2 linked regions of the Homo sapiens genome follow. The protein of the gene in region 1 interacts with the protein of each later gene in a biochemical or structural test. Each region holds a gene or a part of one and is shown on either strand. Other genes may lie near its edges.

Region 1 (7,162 bases):
GGTAGAGATGCTACCTTGGCAGAGGAAAAAATGGGGGTAAGGTCAGAAAGAGCACTTGAGATTCTTGGTGCAAAGTGCCAAGCTAGCTCTGCAACAAAGCATCAGCCCACAGACTTAGGCTTGGCAAGAATTCAGGTTAGGTAAAGCAAGAATCATGATGGAGGCACGTGCCACCATTTCCCAGGTTCTCCCACCTCCAGGCTGTAAACTTTGGAAAGGAGGGCTGGGAACATCCGAGAGGCCCACCTCCTCAGGCTCAATGAGCTTGAACTCCATTCCCCGGCCCGTCCAGGCAATGAAATGGGCATTTGTTGGGTCATCCAGCAAGGCCACCAGAAATTGCCACAGCTGCAGGGCACCCCGGCGCTGGTAGGGCGGCCCCTCTCGAAATGCACCGACCCCTTCCTGCTTGATGTCTCCTGGGGAACACGAAAATAGGAGGTGTGGGGTTTGTGTCTTTTGGTCCCCCAAGCAACCGCCTCCCACCCGAGGGATTTCTCGAAGGGGTCTCCCCAGGTACTTTTCTATGGGTCCCACCCTCTTGCAACAATGAAACGTGATGTGACTCCTGCAGGGACACAGCGTGATAAGACCTTGACCCTCCCATCAACAGTCACTTCTCTGACCTTCAAATTTCTCAGGGACAACGCAGACATCATCTGGGAATGGTCGCAGAGGTTTCTCATAGCCATAGCCTTGTGGAGGAAATTGGGGGTTGCTCAGATCTGGGGGTTCACCGATGAGACCCCAGAGAGTCCAGAGGGACTCCTGGCCAGGGAGACCCTCCCCCATGGCAGCGCTCCCTCCCCCAACATGGAGGGCTTGGCAGGGGAAGGGGGGCTGCCTTACCCATGGCCCCGTCACCTGGAGAGGGCCCAGAGAAGCCCTCTGTGTGGAGGTACATTGATGCGCACCCGGTGACATCTGTGGGGGAAGAAGGGGTGATGTGAGAAGTGGCTTGGGGTGGAGCTCGAGGGCAGGGGAGGAGGAAGTCCTATCCACATTCAAGAATTTCTTCCTTCCAGCCTGCTTCCTGGTGACTGTTCTTTGCCCAGGTTGCCTGCCAACCACAAAATCCCAGGGAAAGTTCACCCAGAGGGAGTGTGATGCTGGAACCCCTCCTCAACTTGAGGGCTGCGGCTGAGGCCATGGAAGGCAGCAGCGGGGGCTGGGCAAGCTGTTCTGAAGGGCCCAAGCTGCCAGGGAGCAGCTGTTTCCTGCGAGTTCAGGGGGAGGAGGGAGGGTGAGATGAACGTCCGGGGAAAGAGTTCGGTGTCCACGCCTAAGACTCCCTCAGAATGGACAAAAATGTCCGGTCAGCAGGTCAGGTTCCCAGCCCTGTGCACGCGCGCGTGTGTGTGTGTGTGTGTGTGTGTGTGACAGAAACAGAGCGTGCGCCTGCATGCACCTGGGGAAGAGGCAGTGGGCACTGGGCCTTGTTTTTTCAGGTCTAACAGAGCACATTCCACTTCGTTTCATTCCATTCCATAGGATAGGAACCTTCCCACTCCACATCGGGAAGGCGGCTGTGTGAAGCCACCCGTTCAAGTTCCAACCCCTTCCCGCCCTCCCCCCACTGCACTCCCACCTATGAATGAGAAGATGGTGAAACATGACACCTCCGGGAGGAGGCGGGAGGGTGGGCTCATTCATGCCTCCATTTTGTGAATGGAATTCCTGACTCCATTCAGGAGTAGCTGGGGGGAGGGGCAGGAGTTCAAGGGCATGTAACACAATCCCCTCCGGTCTACAGCCTTTGAAGGTCAGCGGCAAGAGTGCCTCCCTCCTCCTCTCCCCAGCTCACTGCCAAGCCTGGCTCAGGCTTATGCCCTGGATTTGAGGACAGGAGCACCATCCGGTTCTTAGTTGGACAGCCTGGGGGGTTGTGGTTCATCCCCCTGCCCTTGAACGGTTGTGGGCACCACAAAAAGGGAAATTCTAAAGTTCTAGCTAGCTCTGGGCCTACTCTAATAAACTCAGATCTAGGGCTACTAATGTAACAAAAGCCAGGAGGAAAGAAGAAAAGGCAGGGTTTTCTGGACCCTTCCTGGGACTGGCCCTCCTTCGGCCCTTGAGGCTTTGAACTATAGCTATTTATGAACACAGGTGAGTGCATCTCACTCCAGTCAACAGCCAGGTGGAACTAGAATTTAAAGAAGTCCCTACTTCCTCTGCCCTTGCCTCTGGCCAGGGCATACATCAATTGGGAGGCTCAAATATGTAAGCCACATATTAACCTGTGCTTCTACCAGCTTGATCAACATGGTGAAACCCCGTCTCTACTAAAAATACAAAAACTAGCTGGGCATGGTGATGGGCACCTGTAACCCCAGCTATTCGGGAGGCTGAAGCATGAGAATCGCTTGAACCCAGTGGCACTCCAGCCTGGGCGAGAGAGCAAGACTCCATCTCAAAACAAACAAACAGAGCAAGACTCTGTCTCAAAACAAACAAAACAAAACAAAACAAGAAAACCCTGCCCTCCTATTGAGAACTAGCAAGAACCATGAGCCTGGCTAGTTTCAAATTCATGTTTCTCTTCATTCAAATCCCTTTGTATTTTTAAGCCTCTGTGGGGATAGGGACCAGACACATCCTATTCATCTTTGTATTTCCCAACTCTGCACACTCGTGTTCCTGTCACAGTAGTTTGGTCTTAATAGGTAATTAAAACCTCAAACACCTGTTAAATAGAAATAAATGCCTTAACTTCCCTATTAAGTCACAAGCTACCTGAGGGCAGGATCTACATCCCCCTTTATTTTAATTTTACTTTTTTATAAATAGACACGAGGTCTCACTTTGTTGCCTAAGCTGGCCTTGAACTAATTCCTGGGCTCAAACGATCCTCCTGCCATGGCCTCCTAAAGTGCTGGGATTACAGATGACTCACCATGCCCCGGGGGCCCCCCTTATCTTTTAATCTGAATATAGGTTTGCTCATTGAAAAGTAATAATTTGTCCGGGTGAGGTGGCTCATGTCTATAATCACAGCACTTTGGGAGGCCGAGGCGATGGATCATATGAAGTCAGGAGTTCGAGACCATCCTGGCCAGCATGGCGAAACCCCATCTCTACTAAAAATACAAAAATTAGCCGGGCACGGTGGCTGGTGCCTGTAATCCCAGGTACTCGGGAGGCTGAGGCACAAGAATCGCTTGAACCCGGTAGGCAGAGGTTGCAGTGAGCAGAGATCGTGCCACTGCACTCTAGCCTGGGCCAGAGCAGGACCCCATTTCAAAAAAAAAAAGAAAAAGAAAGAAAAATAACATTCTTTTGAAATTATGAAGAAAAAAAGTGGGTGGGTGGGTTGGATGTATGAAATGGTAAACAGCAATGTAAAAAAACTCGGGAGACATTCTGGGCTTAACTGAACACTTGATCACATGCCACCCTGCCCCACCCCAGTCTCTTACCTGAGTCGTAGGCGAAGTCCGTCTGTTCCTGTTTGATCACCACCCCCGCCCCTGGGTACCTGTGCCCATTGACCCCACCCTGGTCCACGGCTGGCTGGCCCGCCTGTTCATACAGGGGATCATGGTATTCTTGCTTAAAGCTCTGCTGGGGATAGGGTGGGCAGGGCTCCGACAGCTGGTGTTGGTAGGGGGCTGGGAGGGGTTCCCGGCCCCCTCCCTGAGATGTGAAGGAGTGGCAAATGTCCAGGGGCTGCTGGAAGACGGAGCTGGATGTGGTTGGATGGAGAAGGAAGAGAAGAGAACTTTAAATTAATCCTTCCTCGAGCCTGTTACTCCTAGGCTTTTAGAGTGGGCTCCGGAATGGGGGGTAGGGGGTTGGGGTGTCAGTATTTCTCCCTTTCTATTCCACTGCCCCCTGCCTCTACCACCCCACAGCTCAAGTCTTTATGGAGAACACTCAGGAATTGAAAAAACACCTGGGCCCATGAGCAGTGGGTTTCCCTGTCTCCTTACCTATGTTCCCCGAGGTACCCATGGCCAGGGTGGGGCTGGGAGGTGCCAGAGGATCTCAGGAAATTCCGTTGCTCTGCCCGGGGAAAGGGCTGTAGGGGCGACTGTCCAAGGGCACCAGGGGCAGGGGACTTGATGGCGATTTGTCTGGGGGGGTCATAGGCACTGGAGTTGAGAAGGAGACAGGGGTGAGGGGGCAGAGAAGCTGGAAAGCATCTTTGAACCCTTCATTCCTAGGAAAGCGAGGTCACAGGGATTACAGGAGAAGGAAGGATAGAGGGGGCTGAGAAGGGAACGGCAGGAGCCACAGACTCAGCCCTAGCCAATTCTTTTCTTTTTCAGAGACAGTCTCCCTCTGTTGCCCAGGCTAGTCTTGAACCCCTGGGATTCATACAGGGGGGATTTGTTGCTCAGAGCAATGGTTTAGGTGGGACAGTGGGCCTCTTGGTGGAAACAGAATCTGCTCTGGCCTCAGTATATATTCCTGAGGCCCTCTGCTGCGTTTTCCGTCTATTCAGAGGAAATCCTTAGCTGTATTGCTTCCTTACAAGTGCTAGAAAATCCTTTCTGTTGTCTAACTTGCATCTCAGCTGCTGCCTCTGCTCATGGGTGCCCCCTGCCTCCCTCCTCTGGAACCCTTCTCCTACCCTTCACCAGGTCCAGGCTGGGGCTCACCTGGAGTAAAGGCACTGCTCGCCATGGTGGTAGGGGAGTGGCGGCTTCCTGCTGCAGGACAGGGCCGGGTCTGTGCGGGGACTCTGGGGCTCCTTCTTGATCCTGGTGGTGGGGCTGTGGAAAGCTACTGTGGGGGTGGAGGGGACAGAGCAAGGCCAGAGCCTGTCACACAAGAGGCAGGCAGGGCTTCTGATACCTTCTGAGCTTTGAGGACCAGCTGGGTGACTGGTACAGCCTCCTTCCCTCTCTGGGTATCAATTTTCTGAGACCCGCAGTGAGACAAGAACATTTTGGCTATTTACATTATGTCTAGTTTATACATCAGACTAGTGTCTGATTATTGACTAAATAAACCATCTAAAGTTCAACATTTAGGCTGGGCACGGTAGCTCACACCTGTAATCCCAGCACTTTGGGAGGCAGGAGTCCAAGACCAGCCTGGCCAACATGGTGAAACCCTGTCTCTACTAAAAATACAAAAAAAAATTAGCCGGGGATGGTGGCGGATGCCTGTAGTCCCAGCTACTCAGGAGGCTGGGGCAAGGGAATTGCTTGAACCCAGGAGGCGGGGATTGCAGTGAGCCGAGATCATGCCACTGCACTCCAGCCTGGGTGACAGAGCGAGACTCCGTCTCAAAAAGAAACAAAAAACAAAAACATTTAATGCAACCCCAGGCCCCAGAAAACACTTTCAAGGAGTGAGCACCTCCAACCTAGGGCCTGTAGTTTTCCTGAGTGCCCTGGAAAATTCCAGGGGAGTGACATGTTTTCTTATTTGAGGATATAAAGAATCTTTCTTGGCCGGGCGCGGTGGCTCACGCCTGTAATCCCAGCACTTTGGGAGGCCGAGGCGGGCGGATCACCTGAAGTCAGAAGTTCAAGACCAGCCTGACCAACATAGAGAAACCCCATCTCTACTAAAATACAAAAAAATTAGCCGGGCGTGGTGGCACATCCCTTTAATCCCAGCTACTCGGGAGGCTGAGGCAGGAGAATTGCTTGAACCTGGGAGGCAGCGGTTGCAGTGAGCCGAGATCACACCATTGCACTCCAGCCTGGGCAACAAGAGTGAAACTCTGTCTCTAAATAAATAAATAAAAGAATCTTTCTTTTTCTGGTTGAGGTTGGATATTGGCCCACTTGAATGTCAGCTGACTAACATTATACACATGCTCCTACTTATCTGTGAAGAACACTGGCCTTTCCTGTGGCCCCTGCGGGGTTCCCAAACTCTGGCCACGAGGCTGAGCAGCAAAGAGTTGGTTCCAAGCCGGTGTGAGATTCAGTTTTAACCGCAGTCCAGTCAAATGCCGTTTGTAACCAACTATTCTCTGCTGTTTTTGATTCTTTGTGCCCCATTGTTTCACTGGTGAAGACAGTTGACAGCAAAGTATCTGACATTAAAGCAGGGTTTGTTTTTTGGTTTTTGTTTTTTTTGAGATGGAGCCTCGCTCTGTCACCCAGGCTGGAGTGCAGTGGCTCAATCTTGCCTCACTGCAACCTCCGCCTCCCAGGTTCAAGCGATTCTCATGCCTCAGCCTCCTGAGTAGCTGGGATTACAGGTACACGCCACCATGCCCGGCTAATTTTTGTATTTTAGTAAAGACGGAATTTCATCATGTTGGCCAGGTTGGTCTCAAACTCCTGACCTCATGTGATCCACGCGCCTCAGCCTCCCAAAGTGCTGGGATTACAGGCGTGAGCCACCACACCCAGCCTAAAGCAGGGTTTCTCAACAGTGGCACTACTGACCTGTGGGCCAGATAGTGTTTTATTAATAATATTGTAAGGAGCGGTCCTGAGCATCATAGGATGCTTTTAGCAGTATCCCTGGCCTCTCTATCCACTAGACACCAGTAGCACCCCACCCTCAACTGTGACAACCAAAAATGTCTACAGATATTACCAAATGTCTCTTGGGAGGCAAAATTGTCCCCAGTTTATGGAAGTGACTTAGAATACTAGAACTGGGGGCGGGCGCACTGGGCTCACGCCTGTAGTCCCAACACTATGGGAGGCCGAGGTGGGCGGATCACAAGGTCAGGAATTCGAGACCATCCTGGCCAACATGGTGAAACCCCATCTCTACTAAAAATACAAAAATTAGCTGGGTGTGGTTGTGCATGCCTGTAATCCCAGCTACTCTGGAAGCTGAGGCAGGAGAATGGCTTAAACCCGGGAGGCGGAAGTTGCAGTGAGCCGAGATTGTGCCACTGCACTCCAGCCTGGGTGACAGAGCAAGACTCTGTCTTGGGGGGAAAACAAACAAACAAACAAACAAACAACACTAGAACTGGACTCTGCTGAACTGGCCCAGGCCCCTCACTTCAGATATAAGGCAATGGAGAACCAGAGGGATAGTGTCTGCTCTAAGGTCACACAGCAAGAACATGTCAAGCCCCAGATTTCAACCAAGGTTTTCATTCCAGTTATTGCCTTGGTCTTTAAGATCAAACCCCACTGTGTTTTAGGAGAGAACAAGCTGCTCTCTTGTGATTCTCTATCCTATGACTCACTTCCTGCCATCCTCCACTCCCTATACCCTCTCCCCAGGGACCTCT
Region 2 (5,533 bases), on another chromosome or scaffold:
TTTTCTGGAGGAAAATTAAACACCTTCTAAAAACCTAAAGGCAGATGAAGCTCACAGGTGAAAGTCACTCCACTCTGGGGCTCCAGAAGGCTGAGTCTTAGTCAACATGACTTTTTTTTTCTTTTCAGAGACAGGGTCTCATTCTGTCACCCAGTCTGAAGTACAGTGGTACAATCTTGGCTCACTGCACACCCCGCCTCCCAGGCTCAAGCGATCCTCCTCCATCAGCCTCCCGAATAGCTGGGGCTACAGGCAAGTGCCACCAGGCTCAGCTACTTTTTGTATTTTTTGTAGAGATGGGGTTTTGCCATGTTGCTCAGGCTGGTCTCAAACTCCTGGGCTCAAACGATCCTCCTGCCTCAGCCTCTCAAAGTGCAAGGCTTATGGGTGTGAGCCACCACACCCAGTCTTCTACATGGTTTTTCTGAAAGCTCTGATTACATGCTGAATTTACAAATGGTGGAAAACAAGGAGTAATGGTTAATAAGCTGAATGGTACAGTACAAATTACACAAGGAACAATACATGAATTAGAAATTTAAAATTTAGTTGAAATATAAAATAAATTATTGCCAGAAACACAAAGGGCACATGAATACAATAGGGGAAACAGCTTAATGGCTTTCTGTTCTCTGAAAACTCAAGGCCCATCTCTGAGTGATAAGAGTACCCTAACAGGCAAAGCCCTCTGAGGTCCGGGACCAGGAAGACAGTGCTACTCCACCTACTGGCGGTCTGGCACTATCTGTAGGCTGGAGTTGGGCTGGGGATGGTACATTCAAAATGGACTTTGGTAAACTAGGGGACAACCCAGACAAACACTGCAGAAAGGAGGAAGGACTCCCTTTCCAGCATCTCAAATTCAAGGCTCCAAGTTACTGGGCTTGGGCAAAGTCACACATTTTCTCAACAAAGGCCAACTGCTGACAATCCAAATTTTAAAAACACTGCCATTAGGCCAGGCGCAGTGGCTCACGCCTGTAATCCCAGCACTTTGGGAGGCTGAGGCAGGTGGATCACGAGGTCAGGAGTTCCAGACCAGCCTGGCCAACATAGTGAAACCCCATCTCTACTAAAAATACAAAAAATTAGCTGAGCGTGGTGGAGGGCGCCTGTAATCCCAGCTACAGGGGAGGCTGAGACAGGAGAATCGCTTGCACCTGGAAGGCGGAGGCTGCAGTGAGCCAGGATCGCGCCACTGCACTCCAGGCCAGATGACAGTGTGAGGCTTCATCTCAAAAACGAACAAAAAACCCACTGCCATTAAAAGCTTTATTTTATTTACTTATTTTTTAGAGACAGGGTCTTGCTATGTTACCCAGGCTGGCCTTGAACTTCTGGGCTCCAGCCATCCTCCTGCCTCAGCCTCCTGAGTAGCTGGAACACAGATGTGCACCACCACCACACGCAGGAAGAGCTTTATTTTAGAAAGTACTCTTCCTACATGTGAAGTCTCCAAGAATAAAGAAAAGAAAGTACTCGTCTTTGGCAAACAGTGGAGATCTTCTGAACCTTTTTTGAGATGGAGTTTCACTCATCGCCCTGGCTGGAGTAGCAATAGCACAATCTTGGCTCACTGCAACCTCTGCCTCCCGGGTTCAAGCAATTCTGCTGCCTTAGCCTCCTGAGTAGCTGGAATTACAGGTGCCTGCCACCAGGCCCGGCTAATTTTTTTTTTTTTTTTTAGTAGAGATGGGGTTTCACCATGTTGACCAGGTTGGTCTTGAACTACTGACCTCAGGTGATCCACCTGCCTCAGCCTTCCAAAGTGCTGGGATTACAGGCATGAGCCACCGTGCCCGACCGAGTTCTTTTTTTAATGAAAAGAATTTGACATTCCTGCAGTAGATATAAGGCAGCAGAAACAGGAACTGTGCAGGCATGTGTAACAAGAATGCAGATGCCATTTATTTGGTCCATAAGTATAGTCGTTATTTGAGTTTTACAAAACATCGAATATAAATAACCTGAAACTGTAACAATACACAAAAATTGGCTTCTTACACAGACATACCAGGCGGTACAAACTGAAAACTTGAGTAAATTAACATTGTTTTACATTAATATACATAGTGCCATCTAACATTTAAAAACAAGTTTCAATGCATAGCACTCGATACTTCTTTGAATCTGTTTCAATCAGTTAAGAGTATGAAAATGGTTAGATCTAGGCTAAAAATAATTCTTCTTCTAGCCAAAAATAAAGGCATAATATTTATAACCAGGTATCAACTTTACTAAACCACAATATTTTGAAACTATTAATGATACCTACGGGTATTTACATTAAAAAGGCAACATGCATTGTGTTGTTTTATCTCATGACTGGTTATGCACACACTTTGTTCAAAGGGTTTTTAAAACTATATTCCTACTTTCAATACAGCATACTGCAATGTGTCTAACAGTTCTAGCAAAATGAATGCTTTCAAAGGGAGCAGAATCATTTTCAAGTCACTGCTGTCAATTTTTTCCCTTTGGAACAAAGGACATAACAATCTGGTTCTGCCCAGATAAACTAAATAGTAAGAGGGTTCTGTTTAGAGGCATTTCTGTTCAATCTAATGCTATGACATCATCAAGCTCTTCCTTCTGTTCTATACGTGACCTCTTTGCACTGAGATTCTCTTTCTCATCTAATTTCCTCTTGCGGCTTCTCTCTTCTTCACTGACGTCGGCATTATTTGAAGAATCTTCTTCATCTGAATCAACTATGAGAACGTCATCTTGCTCTTGAGCTTATTTCAGAAAAAAGGGAAAAAGAAAATGGGTAAAAGCGTGGGAGTTACCTGTGCTCACCTGTATTTTCTATAATTGAAAGCTGACTCTTCTAATACACACCAGACTTAAGAATGGCTGCATTTTCACTTTACACATTACGTATTTCCATACTGTTTTAAATGTTTTATATAAGAACCTATTTATTTTCTAATCAAAACAAAAAATTGTGACAAGCATTATGTAACTCAAAGTACTCATTACACATCCTTGATTCTACCTCCACATTCTCCAATAGAAAAGCAGAGGGTACATATTCTAATAATGGTAGTAGTGGTAACAATAGCAACAACAATACAGCACTTACAATGTGCCAGGAACTGTTCTGAGCACTGTGCATATGACAACTCATTTAATCATCACAACCCTATAAAGAAGATCACATGAGTATCTGCTTTCCAGGAAAGGAAACTCAGTGAATGACTTCCCAAGCTTACATAGTAGCAGAGGATGAAGCCAGGAACCATCCCCAATGCAGAACTGATACTAAAGGTGGTTTTATCTCCTCGTCCAACAAAATCAAAGGCAGAATACCTATCTTACTCATGGCTGTAACCTTGGAAACCTACCCACAGTAGAGAATCAATAAATGTACATTTCAAATTATGATTTTGGAAAATCTACCAGATAGTCTCTTCCTCAAAGGAAGATGACGGACCTTTCTAATTTCAGTGAGGGGGGAAAAAACAGGTTATGAACCAATGACCCAGGCCATAATCTGAATGTTCGTCTCCAAAATTCTCAAGAGAACATTAGAGCCAAGAGTAAACATATTCCAAAGAATGCCACAGACATAGGGTCAAAGAAATGAAAACAAAGAAGTCAAAATCTGGTAACCTTTAGTTTCCTAACTAAAGGAAGAAAGGGAGAGGAGTAAATATTCAAATCAGAATACAGTAAACAATCAGTTATTTGGAAAAATACCAAGCACCAGCACTGAAAATCCAGGGGAAAGGACTATACCCAAGTCATACTGGTGACAAGGAAACTCTAACATGCCTAAATTCCATACTTAACAAGCACCTGTTCACTCAAAATAGTCAGATGCATGGATTTATTGCTCCTTAAAACAAGCATACAAAACCCCAACCTGCTACTACATAGGCTGACTTTGCACACTAGTAAACTATCATTTCAAACTGTTAAAAACCAATTAACAAAAAATAACAAAGTGTTCTTATTTTCTGTAAGAAATTTCCATAAGAATTTCCCCCAGTCTTAAATGACTTGTTTGTTTGGAGCCGGAAGCCTCGCTCTGTCACCCAGGCTGGATGGAGTGCAGTGGCGCGATCCCAGCTCACTGCAACCTCCGCCTCCTGCCTCAGCCTCCCGAGTAGCTGGGACTACAGACGCATGCTGCCACGCCCAGCTAATTTTTTGTATTTTTAGTACAGATGGGATTTCCCTGTGTTGCCCAGGTTAGTGTCAAACTCCTGAGCTCAGGCGATCTGCCCGCCTCGGCCTCCCAAAGCGTTGGGGTTACAGGTGTGAGCCACCATGCCAGGCCTTAAATGACTTTTTTTTTTTTTTTTTTGAGACATGGTCTTGCTGTTGCCCAGGCTGCAGTGCAGTGGTGCAATCATGGCTCACTGCAGTGTCGAACTCCTGGGTTCAAGTGAACCACTTCAGCCTCCTGAGTAGCGGAGACTACAGGTACACGCTACCATGCGTGGTTAATTTTTTTTTTTCTTTGTAGAGATGGGGGTCTCTCATTGTGTTGCCCAGGCTGTTCTCCAACTCCTGGCCTCAAGTAATACTCCCATCTTGGCCTCTCAAAGTGCTGGGATTACAGGTGTAAGCCACCACACCCAGCCTTAAATGTCTTCATGGTTCATAAATTCAAAGCTCCATTACAACAATCAATACCAAACCAATACACACCTCTAGTAGTTTTATGGATTTATGGTCAATGTTCCTAATAATCAGTTTGTTTTTACTTCTGCTTTGTGGGTATTTAACAACCTGCTGGCTGGGGCCATACTCACCTGTGGAGGTGGAGGGCTGAGCTCCATCATCACTGCCATTGGTTATGCTTTTGGCAGCATCTTCAGCTTGTTTGGGCCCCACTTTTTCCGGGGCATCACCAACAACTTCAAATTCAACGTCCTTTCCTAGGTCTTCACTGTAGGAGAATCACACAGGTCACTGCTATGACTATTTAGAAAGCAAAGGAGCACCAGAGAAATCCTGTTGTTCCTCAAAGCATACACTATGTATACACCAAATATGTGGATTCTAATTTTTTTTTTAATTTTTATTTAAAAAAAAATGAGAGATAGGGTCTCATAATGTTGCCCAGGCTGGTCTTGAAATCTTGGGCTCAAGCCATCCTCCCACCTTGGTCTCCTAAAGTGCTGGGATTACAGGCGTGAGCCAACCATACCCACCTTGGATTCTAATTTTCAAAGCACTGAACTTATAATAAAAAAGACGGTACACAACAAATTTCTGTGATAATCAAAAACTCTACATGCACTTTCAAATCAGGGCAAGGTTTTGGTTTTTTGTTTCTTTAAAACAGTAAATAACTTTTATTGCTGAAGCATAAAACTGGGTCCAAAGCTTGGTGGCCTAAAGCAACTCTTGGACATTATTTCTTTAGCTACAATGCCAAAAAAAGATTTCTACATCCTCTACTTACAATGTGATCTTTTTCTTTTTTTCGAGACGGAGTCTCACTCTGTCACCCAGGCTAGAGTGCAGTAGCGTGATCTCGGTTCACTGCAACCTCTACCTCCCAGGTTTTCAAGCTATT

The links.
Region 2: of the proteins of ETV4 (region 1) and UBA2, one has a biochemical effect on the other in vitro, tested with the Homo sapiens proteins (one study listed by BioGRID).

What each region holds. Positions count from the first base shown.
Region 1 is NC_000017.11:43,529,258-43,536,419, forward strand, and holds part of ETV4 (ETS translocation variant 4), read right to left. Parts: coding exon of another isoform or gene 7,155-7,162; intron 4,729-7,154; coding exon 4,602-4,728; intron 4,092-4,601; coding exon 3,930-4,091; intron 3,683-3,929; coding exon 3,417-3,682; intron 1,179-3,416; exon of another isoform or gene 925-1,178; coding exon 850-924; intron 696-849; coding exon 627-695; intron 420-626; coding exon 247-419; intron 1-246.
Region 2 is NC_000019.10:34,466,245-34,471,777, reverse strand, and holds the end of UBA2 (SUMO-activating enzyme subunit 2), read right to left. Parts: intron 4,901-5,533; coding exon 4,764-4,900; intron 2,739-4,763; coding exon 2,557-2,738; 3' UTR 527-2,556; downstream 1-526. UniProt on the Homo sapiens protein: The heterodimer acts as an E1 ligase for SUMO1, SUMO2, SUMO3, and probably SUMO4. It mediates ATP-dependent activation of SUMO proteins followed by formation of a thioester bond between a SUMO protein and a conserved active site cysteine residue on UBA2/SAE2.